Linked DNA regions of Homo sapiens. The protein of the gene in region 5 purifies or fractionates together with the protein of the main gene of each other region. This does not show direct contact. Each region holds a gene or a part of one and is shown on either strand. Other genes may lie near its edges. The genes, in order: CDK11B, KRT8, NPAT, EAF2, POU2F1, LMNB1 and STAT5B.

Region 1 (4,111 bases), about 170 Mb from region 5:
GGTCAGGCATGGTGGCTCACGCCTGTAATCCCAGCACTTTGGGAGGCTGGGTGAGGCAGGTGAATCACCTGAGGTCAGGAGTTCCAGACCAGCCTGACCAACAAGGTGAAAGCTCGTCTCTACTAAAAATATAAAAATTAGCCGAGCGTGCTGGCAGGTGCCTGTAGTCCCAGGTACTCAGGAGGCTGAGACAGGAGAACTGCTTGAACACAGGAGGCAGAGGTGGCAGTTAGCTGAGATCATGCCACTGCACTCCAGCCTGGGCAATGGAGCAAGACTGTCTCAAAAACAAACAAAAAAGGCCGGGCGCGGAGGCTCATGCCTGTTGTAATCCCAGCACTTTGGGAGGCCGAGGTGGGTGGATCATGAGGTCAGGAGATTAAGATCATCCTGGCTGACACCGTGAGACCCCATCTCTACTAAAAAATACAAAAAATTAGCTTGGCATGTTGGTGGGCCCCTGTAGTCCCAGCTACTTGGGAGGCTGAGGCAGGAGAATGGCGTGAACCCGGCCCTGGGCGACAGTGCGAGACTCCGTCTCAAAAACAAAAAAAAAGCTAACAAAGTGAGCACATGCTATTGGAAAAATGCTCAATGCAGAGTTGCTACAAACCTTTAATTTGGAAAAATTTCAATATCTGTGAAGCATAATAAAGTGAAGTGCAATACAACAAGGTATGCCTGTACTCACTAACATCCCAAATGATGCTGCTAAAGATCTTAGCAAAAGAGGTACTTTGCCAATGCCTCTTACCAAATTACTAAAAAGGTTTCCTGAGTACATTACCATGCAAACCAAGAAAGATGTAAAATATTTATATTAATTTCAAGGCAAGTTCCCACTATATTAAAAATACTTAGAGATAGTATTATGAACATACTAATGAACCGAGAAAAATTAGTCCAGTTTTGCTAATGACTTAACATTCAACGTATTTTATTCTCCATGTATGCTCAATCTAGACACAGCTTTAGTGTGTTAAATCTGCCTTTAATGTCAACTGAATATTTGAATGTTTTTGTTAATTTTTAGAATAGATTTTGGGCTCACCTGCGACATTTGGAAGTACAAAAGAACTTCACCGAAGAAGCGTTGTTCTAATGGAAAAATGAGGGCAAAGAAATTAAATCTCCTTTAAGAAAACCACTTACTTAAAAAATATGGCTTACATTTTTTAAGCGTTTTATCTCTGCTTTCTCCTCTTGTTCCTTCCTTCGTTTCTTTTCCTGAAGAATTTCATCTAAAGTTTTCACTTTCCAAGAGTCCTTTTCATCACCCATTTGAGTTAAAACACTGCAAAAAGAAAAATAATTCAGCCTACATCAGGACACAGCAAGCTATGGTGCTGAACACTTGAACCTAGTCACTTTTGAGGGATTCAGAATAAATCCTCATTAAGAATAAGAAGTTGTGCCCGGCGCAGTGGCTCAAGACGGTAACCCTAGCACTTTGGGAGGCCGAGGCGAGCAGATCGCTGGAGTTCCGGAGTTCAACACCAGCCCGGGCAACATGGCAAAACCTCGTCTCTACAAAAAATACAAAAGTTAGCCCAGTGTGGTGGCGCGTGCCTGTATTCCTAGCTACAGGAAGGAGGCTGCTAGAGGCAGGAGGATCACTTGAATCAGAGAGGTCAAGGCTGCAATGAGCCAAGACTGCGCCACTGCACTCCAGCCTAGATAACAAAGTAAGACTTGGTTAAAAAAAAAAAAAAAAAAAAAAAAGTAAGCTCTAGGCTGAGGCGGGTGGATCACAAGGTCAGGAGGTCAAGACCAGCCTGGCCAACACGGCGAAAACCCTGTCTCCACTAAAAATACAAAACTTAGCTGGGCGTGGTGGCGGGTGCCTGTAATCCCAGCTACTCGGGAGGCCGAGGCAGCAGAATCGCTTGAATCCGAAAGGCGGAGGTTCCGGTGAGCCGAGGTCGCGTCACTGCACTCCAGCAAGACCCCGTCTCAAAAAAAAAAGAAAAAAAAACAAGAATGATAAGTTGTAAGCCAGGCAAGGTGGCGAGCGCCTGTAGTCCCATATACTCTGCAAGCTGAGATGGGAGACCGATTGAGCCCAGGAGTTCCAGGCTGAAGTGCGCTTGTGAACAGCCACTGCGCTGCAGCATGGGCGACAAAAAAGAGTGATGGGTTCTGAAAAATGACCGCTTGAAATCAAGTCTCGTTTCTGTCATTCTTGTATGGTCTTGGGTAACGTAATTCACCTCAGTTTAGTCTTCCGTACAACCAGAATAACAACACCTACGTGATAGTATCGATCGCGGATTAAAGATCATCCGTTTAAAGGCTCTTAACTCAGGACCTGCCACTCATCAAACACTGCTTTTACTGTCAGAATCTGCTAGAAAGACCGCTTGGACTACGTGAAGCCACTAGCACACTGGACAGCTGCACCTTGAGACCGGGGAGATGCTCCGAGATGTGCTCGCGAACAAGGCCACCTGACCCGGGCACTGGGCTATTTCCTCGGGTTCAGTCCCGCACACTTGAGGTTCAGCCTGGCAGACGTTGGCTCCAGACAGCGTTTGGACCCGCCGCCTCCACCACCCAAAGTTCCGTGCGGGATGAGACTGTCCGCGGAAGCGAGGGTGTCGCTCGCCCCCGGGCCCGGGTCCGCCCCGCTCCGAGGCCTGCTCGGAAGAAAGACCTCGGTGCGCAGTTCTCCTCGCGCTCCCACACCTGGTCCGCCCAGTCGGAACTCACCCCTACGCCGCCGCCGCTGCCGCCGCCGCCGCCGCCGGTCCCGGAGCCAGAGAAGAAACAGCAACCGGCGCGCGCCAAAAGTATCGTCACTTCCTGTATTGGCGCGTAATGATGATATAATAGCCGACCTCCGGCCCAGAACTCGAGACAACGACAGGGGCTCGCTCTGTGCGGCACTTCCTGTGTCTGCGCGGGATGATAACGCATAAAACAGCGCTTGCTCAGGTCCAGGACGCCAGAAGAAACAGCCCGGTGAGCGCACTTCCGACTTCGGCGCGGGCTGTGACGCAGGAATCGGGACTCCGGAGGAGCGACGCCCACTTTTGGAGCAGTTTGCGCCTGCGCGGAACGCGTGGCCGGCTTCCGGAATCCTACCGGGACTTTTCCGGTAGCGAAGCCCGCGCCTGTGCCAAGGCTTGCGAGCAGAATGCCTTCGCGATGGACGCCCGCATTCCACCCCCTTGACCGCTGGGACCCCTAGTGGCGGGTGGGTGGAGCGCGCTCCATTTACCTGCTGGTTACCTCGTGAGGCGCCTCAGGTCTGTGTGTCTTGTAAAGGCCGATCTCGGAATTTAACTCTGAACCTTACTCAGAAACAGGGCAGGGAGAGCTCTTACGATGTGATTTTATTTTATTTATTCATGTATTTACTTTTGAGTCGGAGCCTTGCTCTGCCGCCCAGGTTGGAGTGCAGTGGCGTGGTCTTGGCTCACTGCAGCCTCCTCCCGGGTTCAAGGAATTTTCCTGCCTCAGCCTCCCGAGTAGCTGGAACCACAGGCCCGCGCCACCACGCCCGGCTAATTTTTATATTTTTGGTAGAGACGAGGTTTCGCCATATTGGCCAGGCTGGTCTCGAACTCCTGACCTCAAGTGATCCGCCCGCTTCGTCCTCCTAAAGTGCTGGGATTACAGGCGTGAGCCACCGCGCCCGGCCTTTTACAATGTGATTTTGAAGCTGACACTGGCAGTGGGTCCTCAAAGTGCAGACTCACTGGGTATGGTGCTTCCCCCAACTCCCAGGGCCCCACTCCAAACCCATGGATTCAGAGCATTGCAGGAGAAGAGGATAAAACGAGCAATTAATTCCCTTTCCATATGTCAGGTTTTCCTCTTGACTTGAAAAGTCACAGAAAAATGCTTTAGACATCTGAATCTCAGGAAACAAACAATGGAAGATAAACATCCGCATTTACTGGGCCTGAAATGGGAAAATGAAAGATGTGGCAAGAAACTGACAAGGGCCCAAGAAGGGCGATGGGTATCGGAATTTTTTTCATCCCGGAATGAAATGCTGCTTGCTTTGTGTACCCAAGCTCTTTTTTTATTTTTATTTTTTTGAGACGGAGTCTCGCTCTGTTGCCCAGGCTGGAGTGCAGTGGCGCGATCTCGGGTCACTGGAAGC
Region 2 (2,693 bases), on a different chromosome or scaffold from region 5:
GCCTGGCCAAGGAGGAGTACAAGCCTGAGAGCTGGACAGCTCTGGGTTCCAATGCCAAATCTGCTAGTTTCTAGATGAGCCAACTACTTGGCTTCTCTGAGCCTGGCTTTCCTTATATGCAGATAGTCCTGATGCCAAGGTGTAGGGGAAGCACACTAAGCTCTCTGCTGATAATGCCCTCAAAAACTTGCTCTGCCTGCCTCTTGAGCCTTGCTGCACAGATCACATGAACCTTGGGATTTGAAAGCACACTGTAAACCAGAAAGCACTGTGCACAGGTCAATGACTATTATACAGGTGTAGATATCTATGGCAACAAGCAAGGTTTCAACCAGGTTTCAATAAAGGAGCCTCTTTAGGAACAGCTGAGGGGGTCAGACTTTCCCGCTGTGCACCCCCTGCTTCCTGGACCCCTCCCAGCTTCTCAGTCCCAAGAAGAGGCCTCCTGACCACCTCCCTCCCACCCCAGTGGACATCAGATGCACACACAAGCAAGGACATTGGCAGAGCTAGCTGAGGTTTTATTTTGGACCAAAAAAAAAAAGCAATTGAATTGTTTTGTAGCTGGAGGCATGGGCAAGGGGGGTCCCCAGGTAGTAAACTCCCCAGGTGGGCTGAGGGCTAGGGCTGAGCCTCAGGTGGGTCTCCTGTTCCCAGTGCTACCCTGCATAGCGGCCTCCTTCCCAGGCTCTGGGGCAGCGCAGGAGGGGTAGGCTGGGAGGGGCTGCCGCAGCTGTTCACTTGGGCAGGACGTCAGAGGACTCAGACACCAGCTTCCCATCACGTGTCTCGATCTTCTTCACAACCACGGCCCTGGAGGAGCTGGTGCGGCTGAAGGAGCTGGAGCCCGCGCCAGAGCCAAAGCTGGAGCCCAGGCTGTAGCTGAGGCCGGGGCTTGTGAGGCCCCCATAGGCCGAGCTCAGACCACCTGGTGAGGGACAGAGGTAGCCACATGAGTACAGAAGCCCACCCCATGGCAGGCTCCATGCCCCTTCTCCCTGCTCATTCCCAACATAGCCCCAGGGATGGGAGGTTAACCCAGCTCTGCCTGATCAGTGATTGCATGGTTCACTACTCCAGAACTGTCAGGGAAAACCAGGAGCAGGGTGGAAAACAGCTGCCATATATATAGCTGTGTGACCTTGGACATTTAGCTGCACCTCAGCTTCCTCAACTGAAGACGTTTACAGGTGTCATATAAAAAATAAATTACAGCCAGGCCCAGTGTCTCATGCCTGTAATCCCAGCACTGATCACAAGGTCAGGAGTTCGAGACCAGCCTGCCCAACACAGTGAAACCCCGTCTCTACTAAAAATACAAAAATTAGCTGGGCATGGTGGTATGCGCCTGTAGTCCCAGCTACTTGGGAGGCCTGAGGCAGGAGAATCTCTTGAACCCAGGAGGTGGAGGTTACAGTGAGCTGAGATCACGCCACTGCACTCCAGCTTGGGTGACAGAGCGAGACTTCGTCTCAAAAAAATTAAATTAAATTAATAAATAAAATAAATCACATAAAACCTGTAGGATACTTAGCACAGTGCCTGGCACACAGCTATGGTTTATTTGGGTGCTTTCTAATAGTAAAGTTACTAAGTAATAAAGTTATTACTGGGGTCCTGAATATGTGCCTCCCCACCCTAGGATTCTCCCAAGAACATGAGTGCTCAGGCTGAGGTCACTGTGAGCGACTGAGCACAGCCCCCTCCCTGGAGCTGAGGCCTCCCTGGGCCCTGCCTCCCGCCCTCATCCCAGGGCCCTGGGACACCCACCTGCATAGCCGCTGGTGGTCTTCGTATGAATACTCATGTTCTGCATCCCAGACTCCAGCCTGTACCCAGACAAATGGGGTGTCAGGACCAACTCCTAGCCCTTCTTGGCCCAGAACAACAGGACCCCAAGTCCCAAGGGGCTTCAGGGGGCTCCCACCGTCCCCACCCCAGGTCCCAGGGATAGGGAAGCAGGTCCGGTCAGAGGTACCCACACCCACCGGCTCTCCTCGCCCTCCAGCAGCTTCCTGTAGGTGGCGATCTCGATGTCCAGGGCCAGCTTGACGTTCATCAGCTCCTGGTACTCACGCAGCTGCCGCGCCATGTCCTGCTTGGCCCGCTGCAGGGCGGCCTCCAGCTCGGACAACTTGGCGTTGGCATCCTTAATGGCCAGCTCTCCACGCTGCTCGGCATCTGCAATGGCGGCCTCCAGGGAAGCCCTCTGTGGGGTAGGGGACAGGTAAGTAGGTCAGGTTGGGTATGCCTTCTCTTCTCCCGTGCTCCCACCCTCCCTCAGGGTCCTCCCCACCACCACCTAGGCTGACTCCCCCCAGCTCAAATTAAATGAGACTAAGGGCCGGGCACAGTGGCTCATGCCTGTAATCCCAGCACTTTGGGAGGCCGAGGCGGGCAGATCACAAGGTCAGGAGATCGAGGCCATCCTGGCTAACACAGTGAAACCCCGTCTCTAGTAAAAATACAAAAAAAATTAGCCAGCCTGGTGGCGGGCGCCTGTAGTCCCAGCTACTCAGGAGGCTGAGTCAGGAGAATAGTGTGAACCCAGGAGGCGGAGCTTGCAGTGAGCCGAGATCACGCCACTGCACTCCAGCCTGGGCGACAGAGCAAGACTCTGTCTCAAAAATAAATAAATAAATAAACGAGACTAAGGAAGCAGATCAGGGAGACATGAGCAGTTTCCAGGTGCT
Region 3 (3,500 bases), on a different chromosome or scaffold from region 5:
TCCTGCTTCAGCCACCCGAGCTGCTGGGATAACAAGCATGTGTCATGATGCCCATATAATTTTTGTATTTTTGGTAGAGATGGGATTTCACCATGTTGGCCAAGCTGGTCTCGAATTCCTGGCCTTAAGTGATCTGCCCTCCTTGGCCTGCCAAAGTGCTGGGATTACAGGCATTGAGCCACCATGCCTGGCCCCATTACATATCTTTATTGTATCATTTCATTGTTTCTCTAAATTATTATACAATTTGTAGCAGTGTAGAAGAAATGTAATTTATATAAACACTGTATTACTGTTTATTACACACAAATATACCCACTAATAAATGTTTAAGTATTGAATACTTAGGAATCCATGACTGTGGATGCAATATAGATTCTATTTTAAGTCATCATCCAATGTGTTTTTCAGGAACAGACTGCATTCAATGAATGAAGAAAAGTTTTATCTTACTATTGTAAATCATTTTATCTAATTAGATGGCAAATCATAACATCTTATGTTGGCAATGGTTTTGAAATGAAACCAAAATTACCATCAATCTTAAGTATAAGTAACACACACGCACCCATGCACACCCCAACCACCCATACCGGAAGTCCTAGGAATTCATCAATTGAAGTCTCTGGCTCCGTAGGGTTGTTATCTGTTTGCTTAGGTACTTGGGCAATATTGTTATCACTGTTAATAAAGAAAGAAAAATCTTTATTATAGTTATGCAATTAGGCAAAAACAATTAGGCATTTTAAACATATATAGCTTACCTAGTTAAAAATTTATTTATGTTTTCTGCTAGCTTTTCTTGAAGAGATTTGTTGCTTAGTATTTTTTCTCGTGCATTTTCAATAACCATTTGCTGGAAAAGAAAGCCACTGTTAGCAAAAGGACAATAAAGAGTATTCTGCTATTTAATATTTATAAGAAAAGAACAAACCGATAAGAGCTGGATAGTTTTAATAAACCTAAATGGAAACTCAGAAGTTGTGATGGCTCCCTCCATATTAATACCTGAATACAACACTTCATAATTTGCAAATGTTTTCACAGATCTTTCACCAACTCTTTCTTATACAGTTCCACACTCATCATCAAACCCCAGTAAATGCCCTATTTTTACAGTGTCGCTCTATAGCCCAGCCTGGAGTACAGTGGCACAATCTCAGTTCACTGCAACCTCCACCTCGCAGTTCAAGCAATTCTTGTGCCTTAGCCTCCTGAATAGTAGCTGGGATTACGGGCGTGTGCCATCACACCCAGCTAATTTTTGTATTTTTAGTAGAGACAGTTGTCCAGGCTGGTCTTGAATTCCTGGCCTCAAGAGATCCGCTGGCTTTGGCCTCTCAAAGTGCTGGGATTACAGGTACAAGCCACTACTCGCCGGCCAGTTTTTTTTTTTGAGACAGGGTCTGACTCTGTCACCCAGGCTTGAGTGTAGTGGTATGATCATGGCTCACTGCAGCCTTGACCTCCCAGGCTCAAGCAGTCCTCCCATCTCAGCCTCCCAAGCAGCTAGGACTACAGGCACGTGCTACCACACCTAGCTAATATTTGTATTTTTTGTAGAGAGGGGGTTTTACCATGTTGCCCAGGTTGGTCTTGAATTCCTGAGCTCAAGCAATCTGCCCACCTCAGCTTCCCAAAGTGCTGGGATTACAGGTGTTTGCCATAGCACCTGGCCAGTATTTTATTAAATGATCCAACAACAACAATGTATTTACAGATATCTATAAACTTACTCCTGTTTCTTTATTTGATACATACACACATACATACATTTGTGTATATATCTGTATTTTTAAACTCAGGAATATTTTAAGTTGCAAAGTTTGGCAGAGTCACTTACTTTTTCTACTGCAAAAGCGTTTGGATCTTGGAAATTCCGTATTGTTGAATGAGGGCCAGACAAAGTGGTACTTTTTCTCTGAGATTCACTGAAACACATTTTAAAAGCTTTTCTTTTAACCACTATATTTAACAGATTTAAAGATAAATACATATACAGACATAAATTTTAAGATCACCATAACAGAACAGATACAGTTGTCCCTGTATCTGCAGGGGGCTGGTTTCAGGACCCCCAAGGATATCAAAATCCACATGTACTCAAGTCCTACAGTCTGCACTAGGAAGCCCATGTATTCAAAAAGTCAGCACACTGCATATAGGCAGGTTTTACTACTAAATTTTTAATCTGTGTTCGGTTGAAAAAAACTTGAGTATAAATGAACCCATGCAGTTGAAACCCATGTTATTCAAGGTCAACTATATTTTCTCTATTTGTGTTAGGAACAAAGGGAAGTACAAAAAGTATTAGTAGTCTTGAATTCAAAAAAATGAGTTTGAAGTCTAGCTTTACCACTTACTACCTATGGTCTGAAGCACAGCAAGCTCTGACTCTCTAACCTACTTTATAATGACCAACTGCATTATTGGGTTTACTAAAGAATGGAATGAAATAAAGTATATATAAAGACTTTATTTAAAAAGTCAGGGTTCCTATAAATGTTAAATATTAATGTTGCTCTTTTATGGCTGGGCATGGTGGCTCACATCTGTAATCCCAGCAATTTTGGAGGCCAAGGTGGGAAGATCACTTGAAGCCAGGAGTTTCAGACCAGCCTGGGCAACAAAGTGAGACCCCCATCTCTACAAAAAATAAAAAAATTAGCTGGGTGTGGCGGCATGTGCCTGTGCTGCTGGCTACTGGGGAGGCTAAGGTGGGAGGATCTTCTGAGCCCACAAGTTCGAGGCTGCAGTGAGTTATGATTGTACCACTATACTCTAACCTGGTCAAGACAGCAAGGCCCTATCTCTAAAAATAAAAAAATGGATATTGCTGTTTGTTATTTTATATGGTGAAGTGAGAAAGGCTCCAATAAAGGAGGCTAACTAAGGTCAGTCTTGAATGAAAGACAACCAAAAGTAAAAACTCTAACAAAAATACCCAGGGCTTGGGAGCTAAGAAACTAGAATAAACATTTTAAAACTATTATCTCTTTCAAAAAATATCCTTCAAACAAAGACACACTTTTCTCAAAAGTGTTTTGGGAAAAACACTTTTCTCAAAGATTGTGCCTGGAAAAATTCCATCAATTGATCTTAGGACTTTAAATGTGTGTGGAGCATAGAACATAACTGTATTATTTACATTCAGTTAAAAAACATGGATTGCAAAAAATCTCAGATAACATCATTTGTAAGATATACCATTATTTTATATACCATTACAGAATAAACATATTTCCCATGAAACAGTGATATGCCATTAATTGAGAGATGCAACCCAATTTCAGGCAGGTTAAAATGTGAAGAAAGACAATGTATTTTGGAATAGTTCTAATATAGATCAGAACATAATCTGGTCCTATTAGTTTATTCACAATGTAAGTATCCTGATGTAATTCTTTTTTTTTTTTTTTAATGGATACGGGTAACTTGTCTCTTTTAAAAAGCATTTACCTTTTGCGTCTACCGGGAGACATTAAACTGGCATGTGCTTT
Region 4 (3,500 bases), on a different chromosome or scaffold from region 5:
CTAAAAATATAAAAAATAAGGCCGGGCGCAGTTGCTCACGCCTGTAATCCCAGCACTTTGGGAAGTCGAGGCGGGCGGATCACGAGGTCAGGAGTTCGAGACCAGCCTGACCAACATGGTGAAACCGTCTCTACTGAAAATACAAAAATTAGCCGGATATGGTGGTGCACGCCCGTAATCTCAGCTACTCAGGAGGCTGAGGCAGAAGAATCGCTTGAACCCGGGAGGCGGAGGTTGCAGTGAGCTGAGATCGCACCACTGCACTCCAGCCTAGGCGACAGAGAGACTCCGTCTCAAAAATAAAAAAAAAATAAAAAAATAAAAAAATTTCCGGGTGTGGTGTCATGTGCCTGTAATCCCAGCTACTCAGGAAATTGAGGCAGGAGAATCGCTCGAACCCGGAAGGCAGAGGTTGCAGTGAGCCGAGATCTAGCCACTGCACTCCAGCATGCAGGACAGAGTGAGACCCTGTCTCAAAAAATAATAATAATTAATAAAGTTGCGGATCAACAAAGTCCACTAGTATAGGCACCCACATAGGGCATGACGATAACTTATTTATAAATAGTGAAAGATTTTATGAGGCAGTTACTTCATTTATACTGTATATATCCATATTAAATGACTTTGGTTCTTATTTTAGATTCATAAATGGTATTTGATAGCCCAAACTAAAGTTTTTTTCTCTCTTTGTTGACATTGATATATCTTGGCCAACCTTTCATCTTTTTTATTCTAACTGGGTTTTGCAGTTCGTTTTTCTAGCTTTAGAAAACAGTTGCATGATCTTGGGCAAGGAACTTAATTTTTTTCCACCCTCACTTCCCTTATCTGTAAGATGGGGTATTCACTACTTTTCAGGATTGGTGTGAAGCTTCAAAGTAAAAATCATCAGGAAAAACTTTTAAAATTGATCAGCATGTAATAGCTGTTATTGTTGTTTTTGTTCATATCTGTGTTCATTCTCTTAGATTTTCTGGCTTCTTCTACTTTATCTCTGTGATACTTACTCAAGTTCAGTTCTGATTTTTTTCTCCTCAATAGCACTGTCCTTTCAACAATTGACATTATTTAAAACTTATTTCCCTCAGTCCAAACCCTTTTTCAAGCATCTAAAACTTAACACCTTAATTATACCTTTCACTTTTCTCACTTTGCCACTGCTAACAAACTCCTCAACTTATTTTCAGTCTAATCTTTATCCTTTGACTCTTCAGTTATACTTTCTAGGGATATACTGTAAATCAAAACTCTTTCACATTTTCATATTGCTTATGTTATTTTTATAACTGTATCTTAAAATCTAGGAATAAGCATCAAGATCTTATTCAATTTTTAATTAAAGCAGCATGAAGAATATATTATAAAAATACTTTCTGTAAATTGTTTATATTCATTTGCATTTATGTTTATTTAAGGAATAGAGGAATGGATTTCATTTATTTCAGAGTTGTTATAAGAGGTAAATATGAAGTGTTAAGCATGGTGCCTGGCATGTAGTAAGTGTTCCATAAATGTCAGCTATTTTAATTGTCATCGTGAAGCAGGGCCAGCCTTTGTTTATTTACAGAGCAATAATTTGATGATTATTGGAAAATTCTCCTTTCCCAAGGTTTTCTAATTATAATTCCCTAAATTCCACTTATAAATATCCATTACTTTGGATTTAGACTTTCTGTCTTTGGGGCCTTTTTGTTAATATGAAGATTAATCTTTTGGAACAATGGGTAATAACTGGGAGGGGGCTCCGTGGAGCTGGTAATGTTCTATTTCTTGATTTGGTTGGTGGTTACATGTGTCACTGTGTAAAAGTCAAAGCTTAATTTTTGTTCTCTTTTGCATTATACCATATTTTAATAAGGAGCTAATGTATATATAACACAGGGAACTATATATCAGAATTATTAGCTGTTGATGTATATTCGTATGAATTAGTTTTAAATGGCTTTAATTGCTTAGAGGGTTTTAAGCTTGTTTAACATGTGAAATATCTTAGTACCCTGAATTTCCTCCTAGATGATAGATTTTAATGGCATCGTTTGAACTATGATTTAACTCAAAATTAAATTGTATTTTAAGATCTTCTAAAGTGACAGATTTGGTTAAATTATACATCATTTAGTGGTGTACATATTCATGAAAAAAACTGTTAAACTAGAAAGATTACTTTTTCTTAAGTTTCTTCATTAATATGTACTGTATTTGCTATGTATTCATTCATTTTGTTTGGATAGAATGACAGACAAGTGGTAGTAGAATGACAGACAAGTGGTAGTAGGCACCAAAGGTGCTTTAAAAAAAATTTATGGGCCAACATTCATGAACTAAGTCAGCAGCCATTAAAAATGACATAAAAAAGAAAAATTTATTGGAAAAAAGGACTGAAAATTGAAAACATTCTACCTATATCAGTTTTTTAGCAAGTTGTGAAAACACTGACATTATTTAGTTTTTAGCAGTAGAACATGTTAGTCAGGTTCATCTTGTCTAAACAGGATTCTATGGAAGCATGAGTGTCAGTAATTCTGTTTTAGAGTATAGCTATTTCTTTTTTCTCAGAATTATGCATACAGAAATAAATAAACTAGATTGTATTTTGTTTGTTCATTTGTAATATGAATACTTTAAACCATTTTAATTACAAAGCTCTTGAAAAATGATTTATCATTCTGAAACATGCTCATAATTTTTATATCCAAATATCATTACATTTTACAAAAATTGGTATTTGTATCTATTTTTAGATGACTTCAAACCTGCTTCTATTGACACTTCTTCTGAAGGATACCTTGAGGTTGGTGAAGGTGAACAGGTGACCATAACTCTGCCAAATATAGAAGTGAGTATTTCTGTATCTTTAAAGTGATCACTTTTGTGGGATTCTCAGTAAATTTAAATGAAAATAATTGCACAATTTGTGTAGTGATAATTGGTTAAAGTAATTAGTAAGCACAGATAAGCAAAAACCATATTTTAAACTACTTTAGGCAAAAAAAACTTAAAATACTTTAGTCCATTTAATAGTTCCAAGAACTATCATAGCAAATGATTTGAAAAAAAATTAGAGTCTAAACAAATATTTATTAAATTCCTACTATAAGCCAGATTTTAAACACTGACCTTAGGATAGTAACATATCCCTTGCCTTCTAGTCCTAATCTTTTATAGCAGACAGACACATAACATCTAGTGTTATAAGTTAGAGCATATATGAAATTCTATGTAACCACATAAGTAGAAGCAAATACTCTGCCTGGTGGAATCTTAAAAAGCTTCATAAAGCAAGCAATATTTCAGCTGAGCCTTTAAAGGACAAGTAAGATTTTATTGGGTAGACAAGGAGTAGAATAAGCAAACAGAACAGTATGTGAAAAGCTCTGATGCCGAAAGAACAAAGAGTTTGTGGAATAAGTGACTTTACGTAGTAAATCATAGTATAATGAAAAATGGGATGGGCGCGGTGGCTCACCCCTGTAATCCCAGCGCTTTGGGAGGCCGAA
Region 5 (3,500 bases):
AATAGCCACCCAGAGTGCAGAGTTATCTAAGAGAAATGTAGAAGGACTCCCAATAAACCACCTCAGAATTGTCACTGCCTCATTCAAGCTGCTGGACAATTTTGGAAAGAATCATTTACACCACATCTTAAGTTTCCACAAAGAAGAACTCAAACTCACATTTTAAAGTACATAAAACAAAAAGTTCTAGGAGGCCGGGGGCCAATTCCCCTTGTGCCCCTCCTTTGACAACAGTGGACAAACACCCCTGAATTAATAATTAAGACAAAAAAGGAAGAAAAAAAAAGTGAGTTAAGATATTGAAAGAGAGAAAGAAAACATCTTTAGAAAAACACGATCACTGTCTCTTTAAAAGAAAACAAAATCCCAGTTGGGAACAGTAATGAGGAATATGCAATCTAAATTGACACCTGGTGGGAGATTATTATTGAATATTATGTACACTCAGAACTTTTTTCATTTTCTTTTTTATTATGAACACCTAGGCAGTGAAAACTGTTATGTTAATACATACATAGACACACCCAAAACATACAAAAATACTATTATTTCAAACTACTAAGAATAGGACAGTTCAATTATTTTCATGCTATGACTTTAAGAGCATTACACTGAAACAAACAAGAAGTTAAACGACATTTTTTTTTTAATATCCCAGAAATATACCAAAATATACATCTAAGCTTTGGAATTACTGAGGTTAGACTAATGCAAGTGCTGGGTAATCGTACTTAATACACGAGTCTAAGGTTCTGCAGGAAAGAAATTATCTTTGGTATCTGCATCAGGCTAATATTATTAACATTTGGATTTTGCTTTGGGATAGAGCTTGTGTGACCCAAGAACCAAGTACCCCCCTCCCCCAACCAACTGAGATTAAAAAGATCCATGTAAAAAGTTCCTTCATTTGCAATCCCCCCACCCCCCAAGTTAAAAAGTCACAGGCATCTACCTAGCACAAAAGGTTGTGAAGTACAATGCATAGTTGCACAGTGGTGCTGCAAAAAGGAAAGAAAACTACAATAAAGAGAAATGAAAAGCTTGATAATCTTTCTGCATGTTTTCTCACAAACAGGACAGCCACTTCCAAGCAGTTCCAGTACAGGAAAAGAAAAAAAGGCTCAGAAGGGCACCGTGGCGTGCATTCGCCCAGCCCCAGAGGTTAAAGCACCCAGCAGAGCAGCCAATCGTGCGCCAGTGTCTTCAACGTCCCCCACTCTGTGGAGTCCTCGGGCCAGTCCAGCAGCAGCTCCCACCCTCCCTAGGCCCTGTGCTAAGTCCCCATAGTGACCCTGGTTGGTGTAGGGTGGATGATGGTGGTGATGGGGTTTTTTGACTTTTGTTTTGGAAAATCTGAAATGCCAATTTGTTTCAGGGCATGCTCACAAGTTTGTGAGGGCCAAAGCTAGGGGCATGCACCTGTGCTGGACCCTGGAAGGTGGTAAGCAGCTTGCCTGCCCTTTCTGATCCAGTCAGAGGGTCCCCCCGCCCCACCTTCCCTGGCCTCACTCTTCTAAGTGCCAGGACACCACAGACTGGACTGATGCTGAAGACTTCCCTTTTCTTTGGTTCTTTTGTTTGTTTTGAGTTTATACAATCATTAAGAAATCTTTGGTTTTGGCTGGAAATTTGAAAAACAAAACAAAACAAAACAAAACAAAGAAACCACCCTCCCCTGGCTTATAGCAGCAGTATCATGACCTGGCTAAGCTTTTTGTCAGCATTAGGGGTGGGAATTGAAGGTTGGGAACTACATTCAAAGAAAAGGTGAAAGGGCTGGGGATGCAGCTTCTAGAGAGCCCATTGGATATAAGATTGTCAAATAATAATAATAATAATAATAAACTTAAATATTTGGATATTTTTGGTCATGTCAAAGGAAAAAAAGTGAAATGTGTATGCAGCAGTCAGCTTAAAGGAGCCTTTGGTGTCTTCCCTTCTACCCAAAGTCCTGAAAAGAAACAGAACCCTGAGGCCTCAGAGGAGAAGGGGTTGGCCTCTACCCCACCAAGGAAAAGGCAAGTACAGAAGTTGACGTGTGGCCAGCTGTCAGAAACACAGGGTGGGTTAGGGGTGTGGATAGCTGGCCAGCCCCTAAAGGCAGGGTGGCAGGGAAAGCAGATGTTAAGAGACCTGTGAAGACCCCTTGCAACAAAAAGGAATAGAAGATTGCAATTTGCCCTCAGTTTGCAGTAGCTTTTAAGCAGCGACATTCAGAGGCTTTAGGGGGTCCCACCCTAGGCTACAGGTCCCATGATGCTATAGGCCAGAGTTTAACATGACTGAGGAGGGAGGGCAGACTTGGCAACTCTGTAGGATTTCGAGAAAGTTAAAGCAAGTCACTCGGTCACGAGTTAGAAATGAGGTATACAACAGCTCCTGGACTTCTGGTGGGTAGAACAGCCCACGCTTACTCACCTAGCCTTCACTACTACCACAGATGAGGGGATGGAAGTACAGACTTATGCGGGAGGAGAGCGTTTCCTGCGGAGTGAGACCTCCTGCGGACTGAGCAATGCACACGTGCCCATGCACGCAGAGGTAAGAAGCTGGAAGTCTTTCTTTCCCCGACCTGACCTTAGGGAAGATACAACATTTATGTTGTCAAAAGCCAATGTTATAATATGATTGCAAAATCTTAGGCTTCCTGCACCAACCTGTTCCATGTTCTCCAACTGTTTGCAGTTTTAAACCTATTCAGGCTGGCACTAGTCCACTCTACTCTTACAAAGTGTGTGCCTTCTGCAGACTCACGCAGGAATGGAACCAAGGACATGGCATCCCCGACTGCCTACAACTACAGCCTTTTGTAGCAGACACTGTCATTTTAGCTTCTGAAAGTGCATTTCATTTCTTCCTATACTTTTAGACCATGAGACTCATTAAGGCTGGGTGGGAGCACAAAGTCTTTTCTCTACTTGGCTCTGTCCTTTTTCATTTGAAAGAGATCCCAATCTTAAGAAACTCAAGTGTTTGGACGTCTCATTTATACACAGCGCTGTATCCAGCTGTCTGCCTGCAGACTTTGGGATATAATGTTTGAGAACTCAATGCCACTGCCAATTTATGAAAGAAGCCTTAAGCTGCTCTTGTGAAGCTGTGGCTAACTTATACAATGATGAACAAGTACACAAAGAAAACAAGGGAAAACTTTGCAGCAGTCCTCAATGTTTTTTACAGTAAATTAGTTTTGGGGTCTTAACTTTTTGACAGTGTCCTGGGTTTAAACCAGAAGGTGGCCCTGGGTGGTGGAGCCCTGTGCAGGGTGGGCAGATACAGGGACACAGAAACAATCATAAATCACATCTTCCCTACCAGGTCCAAGGGACCTTTGTTTCTGTGCTCAAAGTGGTGTTCCATTACACACACCTTGTTTTCCCAGAACTTCTGTTTCAAGTGCTCTAATCTTCAACATCCCTATTACCTACTTATAAACCTATCTAGCACTTTGACAAGTCATACAATATTAATACCACCTTTACATAATGTCAGAACAATAA
Region 6 (3,500 bases), on a different chromosome or scaffold from region 5:
GAGACTAGGTAATATTTTGCATACCCAGATTCAAGGAAGTAAACAGGCAGAATGAAAGATAAAGCACTATTAAAATATGGTGGGTCTTTTCTTTTTTGTGTCTTTACACAGTTGCTGGTTATATTTATTCTTTCGTTTGTATAGATGGTGTCACCTCTGATATGTCTGAGTTAGAAATCTTCAGACTTTTTTTTTATGCCATTAGTGTAAGTCTCTTTCATGTACAAATGTTGAGAATGAGCCTCAGGTATCAGTTGAGTAATGGGACCCTGTATAGGTCCCATTATTTTTAGGATCAGGGAAGTTTTTAAAATCAGTTTTAAACCCTTTTTACAGTGTACCTCTTTGATAAGGAGATTGTGCTTTGGCTGTCATTTGATTTTTTTTTTTTTTTTTTTTTTTTTTTGAGACAGAGTTTTGCTCTCGTTGCCCAGGCTGGAGTACAGTGGTGCGATCTCAGCTCACTGCAACCTCCGCCTCCCGGGTTCAAGCAATTCTCCTGCCTCAGCCTCCCAAGTAGCTGGGATTACAGGCATGCGCCACTACACCCGGCTGATTTTGTATTTTTTTTTTAATAGACTTGGGGTTTTTCCATGTTGGTCAGGCTGGTCTGGAATTCCCAACCTTGGATGATCCGCCCGCCTTGGCCTCCCAAAGTGCGGGGATTACAGGCGTGAGCCACCGCACCTGGCCGGCTGTCATTTGAATTTTTATTATTTTATTTTATTTTATTTTTTTGAGGCAGGGTCTCGCTGTGTCGCCCAGGCTGGAGTGCAGTGGTGCGATCTCGGCTCACTGCAACCTCCGCCCCTCCAGGTTTAAGCAATTCTCTGCCTCAGCCTCCGGAGTAGCTGGGATTACAGGCACGTGCCACCACGCCCGGCTAATTTTTTGTATTTTTAGTAGAGATGGGGTTTCACCATCTTGCCCAGGCTGGTCTTGAGCTCCTGACCTCGTGATCCACCCGCCTCGGCCTCCCAAAGTGCTGGGATTACAGGCGTGAGCCACCGTGCCTGGCTTGAATTTTTTTTTTTTTTTGAGACGGAGTTTTGCTCTGTCGCCCAGGCTGGAGTGCAGTGGCGCCATCTCGGCTCACTGCAAGCTCCACCTCCCGGGTTCACGCCATTCTCCTGCCTCACTCAGCCTCCTGAGTAACTGGAACTACAGGCGCCCTCCACCACGCCGGGCTAATTTTTTTTTATATTTTTAGTAGAGGCTGGGTTTCACCGTGTTAGCCGGGATGGGCTCGATCTCCTGACCTCGTGATCCGCCCGCCTCAGCCTCCCAAAGTGCTGGGATTACAGGCGTAAGCCACTGCCCTCCGCCCGAATTTTTAAAAATTAATTTTATTATTATTATTTTTGAGACGGAGTCTTGCTGTGTCACCAGGCTGGAGTGCAGTGGCACAACCTTGGCTCACTGCAATCTCTGCCTCCCGGGTTCAAGTGATTCTGCCGCCTCAGCCTCCCAAATATCTGGGATTACAGGCACCCGCCACCATGCCCGGCTAATTTTTTTTTTTTTTAATTTCTAGTAGAAACGGGGTTTCACCATGTCGGCCAGGATCATCTCGATCTCCTGACCTCGTGATCCGCCCGCCTTGGCCTCCCAAAGTGCTGGGATTACAGGTGTGAGCCACGGTGCCCTGCCTAAAAATTAATTTTTTTTTTTTTTAATAACTGAGTCTTGCTCTGTCGCCAGGCTGGAGTGCAGTGGCACGATCTCAGCTCACTACAGCCTCTGCCTCCCGTGTTCAAGCAATTCTCCTGCCTCAGCCTCCTGATTAGCTGGGACTACAGGCACACGCCACCACGTCGGCTAATTTTTTTTTTCTTTTTCTTTTTCTTTTTTTTTTTTTGTATTTTAGTAGAGACGAGGTTTCACCAGGTTGCCCAGGCTTGTCTTGAACTCCTGAGCTCAGGCAATATCTGCCTGCCTCAGCCTCCCAAAGTGCTAGGATTACAGGTGTGAGCCACGGTGCCAGGCCAAAAATTAAATTTTTTAAACAGCAAATGTATATTCATTATAGAAAAGGAGAAAACACAAACACCAAGAAGAAAATTCTTGGTTGGGCCTTAGGTTGGGCCCAACCCTTAGGTTGGGACCAGCGGCTCATGCCTGCAATCCCAGCACTTTTGGAGGCCGAGGTGGGCGGATCACCTGAGGTCAGCAGTTCGAGACCAGCCTGGCCAACATGGCAAAACCCTGTATCTACTAAAAATACAAAAATTAGCCGGGCATGGTGGTGGGCACCTGTAATTCTAGCTACTTAGGAGGCTGAGGCAGGAGAACTGCTTGAACCTGGGAGGCAGAGGTTGCAGTGAGCCGAGATCGTGCCACTGCACTCCAGCCTGAGTGACAAAGCAAGACTCCCTTTGGGGGGTGGGGGAAAAGATGCAGGAAAAAAAAAAGCTGACATTTATTTTGTGCCAATTCTGTTTGCCAGGCATTACAGTAGATGCTTTACAGACATTATCTTTTTTTTTTTTTTTTTTTTGATGCAGAGTCTGGCTCTGTCGCCCAGGCTGGAGTCCTGGAGTGCAGTGGCACGATCTCGGTTCACTGCAGGCTCCATCTCTTGAGTTCACGCCATTCTCCTGCCTCAGCCTCCCAAGTAGCTGGGACTACAGGTGCCCGCCACTACGCCCGGCTAATTTTTTGTATTTTTTAGTAGAGACGGGGTTTCACTGTTAGCCAGGATGGTCTCGATCTCCTGACCTCGTGATCCTCCTGCCTTGGCCTCCCAGAGTGCTGGGATTACAGGCGTGAGCCACCGTTCCCGGCCAGACATTATCTTTTAAGCTCATGATAACTGCTGATGAGTAAGGAAACTTCAGGCTCAGAGAGTTTAAGTATTTTGCCTGGTATTACTTAGCAAGTAATGAAAGCTAGAAAGGATGGTAGCCTGACTTCTAGCATTGTGATAGGGTGTTCACATACATAACCTTATTTCATCCATACAACAGTGTTCTACAGGTATTACTCTGGTTTACCGACATGTAGCAGGCTCACAGAGCATCATTATCTGTGGTTGGTACTTGAAGTCTCAGATAGGATAGTTGATTTTCAGATCCCTTTGGGTGCTACTTTTGGAAATGCTACTAGTTGCATGTTTTTCACGTTGATAGTTTGTAGCCTTCAAGGGAGGTAATTTTGGATTTGTCAGAAGGGTAGTGGTCAGTAGTTGAAACAGCTGTTTGAAATACTGAGGGCTTCATTTGCTAAAGAAAGGTGAAGATGAATTACTGAAAGAGATCGCTTTTATCTTTTTTCTCTTCTTAAAAAGCTACTTTCCAACTTTATTCCATGCCTTAATAATTTAAAAGAAATTAAAACCTCTAAATAAATCTTTAATACTCATGACAGGGTGTTCTTTCATTCTTTATTCAAGACACATTTTTGTGGAACAGGTACTATATGCCAGGTCTTGAACCAGATGCTGGGAATAGAGAAATGGGATACTCAGTCCCCATTATCAAGTTACTTACAGTCTAGTGGGG
Region 7 (3,500 bases), on a different chromosome or scaffold from region 5:
ATGTCTAGAGCTCTGCAAAGGCCATTAGAAAATAGTCTCAGATTTTTTTTTTTTTTTCATTTATGATGCTTACTTTCTCTCAGCACTTTTCCTTGGGAGTGGATTGTGAAGTTAAGTCTTGGAAACAGAATTCACAACCCTAAAGCGTAGTGCTTTAACTTTGGGAGATCAAGTCACAGACAAGAAGAACTTCAATTCCCTGTGCAGAGTATAAACTTGTTCAAATAAACAGAGGATGTTAGCTTCCAGGATTGTCAACTGTCACCTTTGACCAGGGTTGAATTTTCTTTGAATGTTGACAGAAGTTACAATGTCAGTGGAAAAAGCTTAATGTGAGGTATCTATAACTCAGAATTTCCTTATGTTTGTGTCAGTGAGATCCTACAATTAAAGCTGCTTCTTTTTTTCTATGTCTGATGAGTTTTAAAAGCCTTCACTGGGGTTTTCCAGCCTTTAGGTGAGAGTAAGTTAAAAAGTTTGTGAGAAACTATTTTTTGTTGTCTAAAATTCAGAGCCTAGGTCGGGCCCAGTGGCTCACGCCTGTAATCCTAACAATTTGGGAGGCCGAGGCAAGCGGATCACGTGAGGTCAGGAGTTGGAGACCAGCCTGGCCAACATGGTGAAACCCTGTCTCTACTAAAAATACAAAAATTAGCCAGGTGTGGTGGTGCACGCCTGTAATCCCAGCTACTCAGGAGGCTGAGGCAGAAGAATCACTTGAACCCAGGAGGCAGAGGTTACAGTGAGCCGAGATCGCACTACTGTGCTCCAGCCTGGGAGACGGAGCGAGACTCCATCTCAAAAAAATAAATAAATTAAATAAATTCAGAGCCTATAGCTGGTGGCAAGTCACTGTTTTTGAAGGAGTGGGATTTTAAAAAATCTAACCTGGGCTAAATGTTAAGTTACATTCATACATGTCATTGTAGCCTATATAAAAAGAAACTTGAACACTTGATCTCTTAAAGTACTAAAAATTGGAATTCATCAGCTTTGTAATATAGCATTCATTCTACAGTATATTTAAATAGGTAAAATGTTCTGTTAGAAATAATGCTAATTCTGTTTTTTTGTTTAATGTTTCTAAAAATCTTTTGGTCATCTTTTAGGTTTAGGAAAAGTAGCAAATTAGAGATCTACAGAAATCTACAGCTCTTTAAAAATGAAACAGTTCACCCTGTGAATTTGTTTGCAGGATTGGTGATCTGTTTCTGATGCCAGGAAGGTGGGACTCCTATCTCATTTCTGATAGAAAGTGAGGGAAAGCTATGTATAGTGAGAACTGGATACTAGATTCTTATTCCGAAGGCATGGAAGGTTTAATATGTAAGGATACAATGTAAATAGTCCCTCTTTTTGTATTTTTCTTTGGTTATTGTTACGTAACTATAGTCGTTTGTCACTTAATGATACATGGTGACAAAGTTCTAAGAAATGCATTAGGCGATTTTGTCATTGTGGTACCATCATAGAGGGTACTTACACAAACGTAGATGGTGAGCCCTACTGCACACCTAGGCTGTATGATAAAGCCTATTGCTCCTAGACTACAAACCTGTGGAACATGTATACTGTATTGAGTACTGTAGACAATTGTAACACAAGGGTAAGTATTTGTGTATCTAAACATATCTAAATATAGAAAAGTTACAGTAAAAACATGGCATAAAGGATAAAAAATGGTACATCTATATAGGGTACTTAACAGGAATGGAGCTTGCAGGACTGGAAGTTGCTCTGGGCAACTCAGTGGGTGAATGGTGAGTGAATGTGAAGGCCTAGGACATTACTGTACATTACTGTAGATTTTAAAAATACTGTCTGGTTAGGCTACATTAAATGTATTTTGAAAATTGTTTCTTTCTTCAATAATAACCTTAGCCTACTGTAATACTTTTACTTTGTAAACTTTTTACTTTTTTTTTTTTTTTTTGAGATGGAGTCTTGCTCTTGTGGCCCAGGCTGGAGTGCAGTGGCGTGATCTCGGATCACTGCAACCTCTACCTCCCGGTTCAAGCAATTCTCCTTCCTCAGCCTCCCGAATAGCTGGGATTACAGGCGTGTGCCACCACGCCTGGCTAATTTTTGTATTTTTAGTAGAGACGGGGTTTCACCATGTTGGCCAGGCTGGTCTCAAACTTCTGACCTCAGGTGATCCACCCACTTTGACCTCCCAAAGTGCTCGGATTATAGGTGTGAGCCGCCGTGCCCGGCCAACTGTTTACTTTTTTACACTTTTAAACTCTTTTGTAGTAACACTTAGCTTAACACATAAACATGTACAGCTGTGCAACAATATTTTCTTTATGTTTTTATTCTTTTACTTTTTCTCTTTTTAAATAATTTTTAATTTTTCAAAACTTTAAAAACTTTTTAATTTTTCAAAACTTTAAAAACTTTTTCTTAAAAGTGAAGGCATAAACACACACATTAGTCTAGGCCTACACAGGGTCAGGGTCATCAGTATCACTGTCTTGCACCTCCACATCTTGTTCCACTGAAAGGTCTTCAGGGGCAGTAACACATATGGAGCTGTCATCTCTTGTGATAACAATGCCTCCTGAAGGACCTGCCTGAGGCTGTTTTACAGTTAACTTTTTTTTTTAAGTAGAAGGAGTACACTCTAAAATAACGATAAAAAGTATGGTAAATACATAAACCAGTAACATAGGCATTTATTATCATTATCAAGTATGTACTGCACGCAATTGTATGTGCTAGACTTTCACATGACTGGCAGTGCAGTGGGTTTGTTTACACCAGCATTGCCACAAACATGTGAGTCATGCATTGCATTACAACATTATGATGGCTACAGCGTCACTAGAGGATAGGAATTTTTCAGCTACGTTTTATTATCTTATGGGACCACAGTGATATATGTGGTCTGTCATTGACTGAAACGTCATTATGTGGTGCCTGACTACATATATGGAAACTCTGAGTGTAGTCATGTTTTACAAATGAGTTTATCTTGCAGTGAGTTTAAATATCAAGTAAAAATACTAATTTCATTGTAATGTATGAAGAGATTGGCCTTTCTCCTCATGTTGAAGGTATCAAAACAAAATAGAAAATATTTGGCTTCCTGAGTGGCATGGCTACAATTCACATGCTGAGTTGGTGATGAGGCAAGATCCCTTGACTTTGCAATACCAGAAAAATGCACATAGTTAAAAAAAAATAGAGACAGGGGTCTTGCTATGTCTCCAGGTGATCCCTCCCACCTCCACCTCCACACCTCCCACCTCAACCTTCCACAGTATTGGGATTACAGGAATGAGTCACTGCACCGGGCCAAAAAGCATATAATTTTAAGGGAATGATTTTTTTTTTTTTTTTTTTATTTTTTGAGACAGTGTCTTGCTCTGTTGCCCAGGATGAGTGAAGTGTGCCAGGAGTGGGTCCTTAAGTAAGAAAACGTATTACTTTAGACACACATTTAAAATTTTGTCCAAAAATGTGATATTCTCAAAATTTATGGTTTTGAATTTTATTTA

The links.
Region 1: the proteins of POU2F1 (region 5) and CDK11B purify together in Homo sapiens (affinity purification with western blotting; one study listed by BioGRID). This does not show direct contact.
Region 2: the proteins of POU2F1 (region 5) and KRT8 purify together in Homo sapiens (affinity purification with mass spectrometry, with the first as the bait; one large-scale study listed by BioGRID). This does not show direct contact.
Region 3: the proteins of POU2F1 (region 5) and NPAT purify together in Homo sapiens (affinity purification with western blotting; one study listed by BioGRID). This does not show direct contact.
Region 4: the proteins of POU2F1 (region 5) and EAF2 purify together in Homo sapiens (affinity purification with mass spectrometry, with the first as the bait; one large-scale study listed by BioGRID). This does not show direct contact.
Region 6: the proteins of POU2F1 (region 5) and LMNB1 purify together in Homo sapiens (affinity purification with western blotting; 2 studies listed by BioGRID). This does not show direct contact.
Region 7: the proteins of POU2F1 (region 5) and STAT5B purify together in Homo sapiens (affinity purification with western blotting, with the first as the bait; one study listed by BioGRID). This does not show direct contact.

What each region holds. Positions count from the first base shown.
Region 1 is NC_000001.11:1,656,205-1,660,315, forward strand, and holds the start of CDK11B (cyclin-dependent kinase 11B), read right to left. Parts: upstream 2,801-4,111; 5' UTR 2,710-2,800; exon of another isoform or gene 2,252-2,709; intron 1,295-2,251; 5' UTR 1,282-1,294; coding exon 1,171-1,281; intron 1,099-1,170; exon of another isoform or gene 1,061-1,098; coding exon of another isoform or gene 1,052-1,060; intron 1-1,051. UniProt on the Homo sapiens protein: Plays multiple roles in cell cycle progression, cytokinesis and apoptosis. Involved in pre-mRNA splicing in a kinase activity-dependent manner. Isoform 7 may act as a negative regulator of normal cell cycle progression.
Region 2 is NC_000012.12:52,896,691-52,899,383, forward strand, and holds the end of KRT8 (keratin, type II cytoskeletal 8), read right to left. Parts: intron 2,295-2,693; exon of another isoform or gene 2,210-2,294; coding exon 1,989-2,209; intron 1,830-1,988; coding exon 1,771-1,829; intron 929-1,770; coding exon 738-928; 3' UTR 501-737; downstream 1-500. UniProt on the Homo sapiens protein: Together with KRT19, helps to link the contractile apparatus to dystrophin at the costameres of striated muscle.
Region 3 is NC_000011.10:108,184,639-108,188,138, forward strand, and holds part of NPAT (protein NPAT), read right to left. Parts: coding exon 3,460-3,500; intron 1,932-3,459; coding exon 1,844-1,931; intron 857-1,843; coding exon 765-856; intron 682-764; coding exon 594-681; intron 1-593. UniProt on the Homo sapiens protein: Required for progression through the G1 and S phases of the cell cycle and for S phase entry. Activates transcription of the histone H2A, histone H2B, histone H3 and histone H4 genes in conjunction with MIZF.
Region 4 is NC_000003.12:121,841,709-121,845,208, forward strand, and holds part of EAF2 (ELL-associated factor 2), read left to right. Parts: intron 1-2,744; coding exon 2,745-2,839; intron 2,840-3,500. UniProt on the Homo sapiens protein: Acts as a transcriptional transactivator of TCEA1 elongation activity. Acts as a transcriptional transactivator of ELL and ELL2 elongation activities. Potent inducer of apoptosis in prostatic and non-prostatic cell lines.
Region 5 is NC_000001.11:167,423,386-167,426,885, reverse strand, and holds part of POU2F1 (POU domain, class 2, transcription factor 1), read right to left. Parts: 3' UTR 1-3,500. UniProt on the Homo sapiens protein: Transcription factor that binds to the octamer motif (5'-ATTTGCAT-3') and activates the promoters of the genes for some small nuclear RNAs (snRNA) and of genes such as those for histone H2B and immunoglobulins.
Region 6 is NC_000005.10:126,783,636-126,787,135, forward strand, and holds part of LMNB1 (lamin-B1), read left to right. Parts: intron 1-3,500. UniProt on the Homo sapiens protein: Lamins are intermediate filament proteins that assemble into a filamentous meshwork, and which constitute the major components of the nuclear lamina, a fibrous layer on the nucleoplasmic side of the inner nuclear membrane.
Region 7 is NC_000017.11:42,266,392-42,269,891, reverse strand, and holds part of STAT5B (signal transducer and activator of transcription 5B), read left to right. Parts: exon of another isoform or gene 1-1,606; intron 1,607-3,500. UniProt on the Homo sapiens protein: Carries out a dual function: signal transduction and activation of transcription. Mediates cellular responses to the cytokine KITLG/SCF and other growth factors. Binds to the GAS element and activates PRL-induced transcription.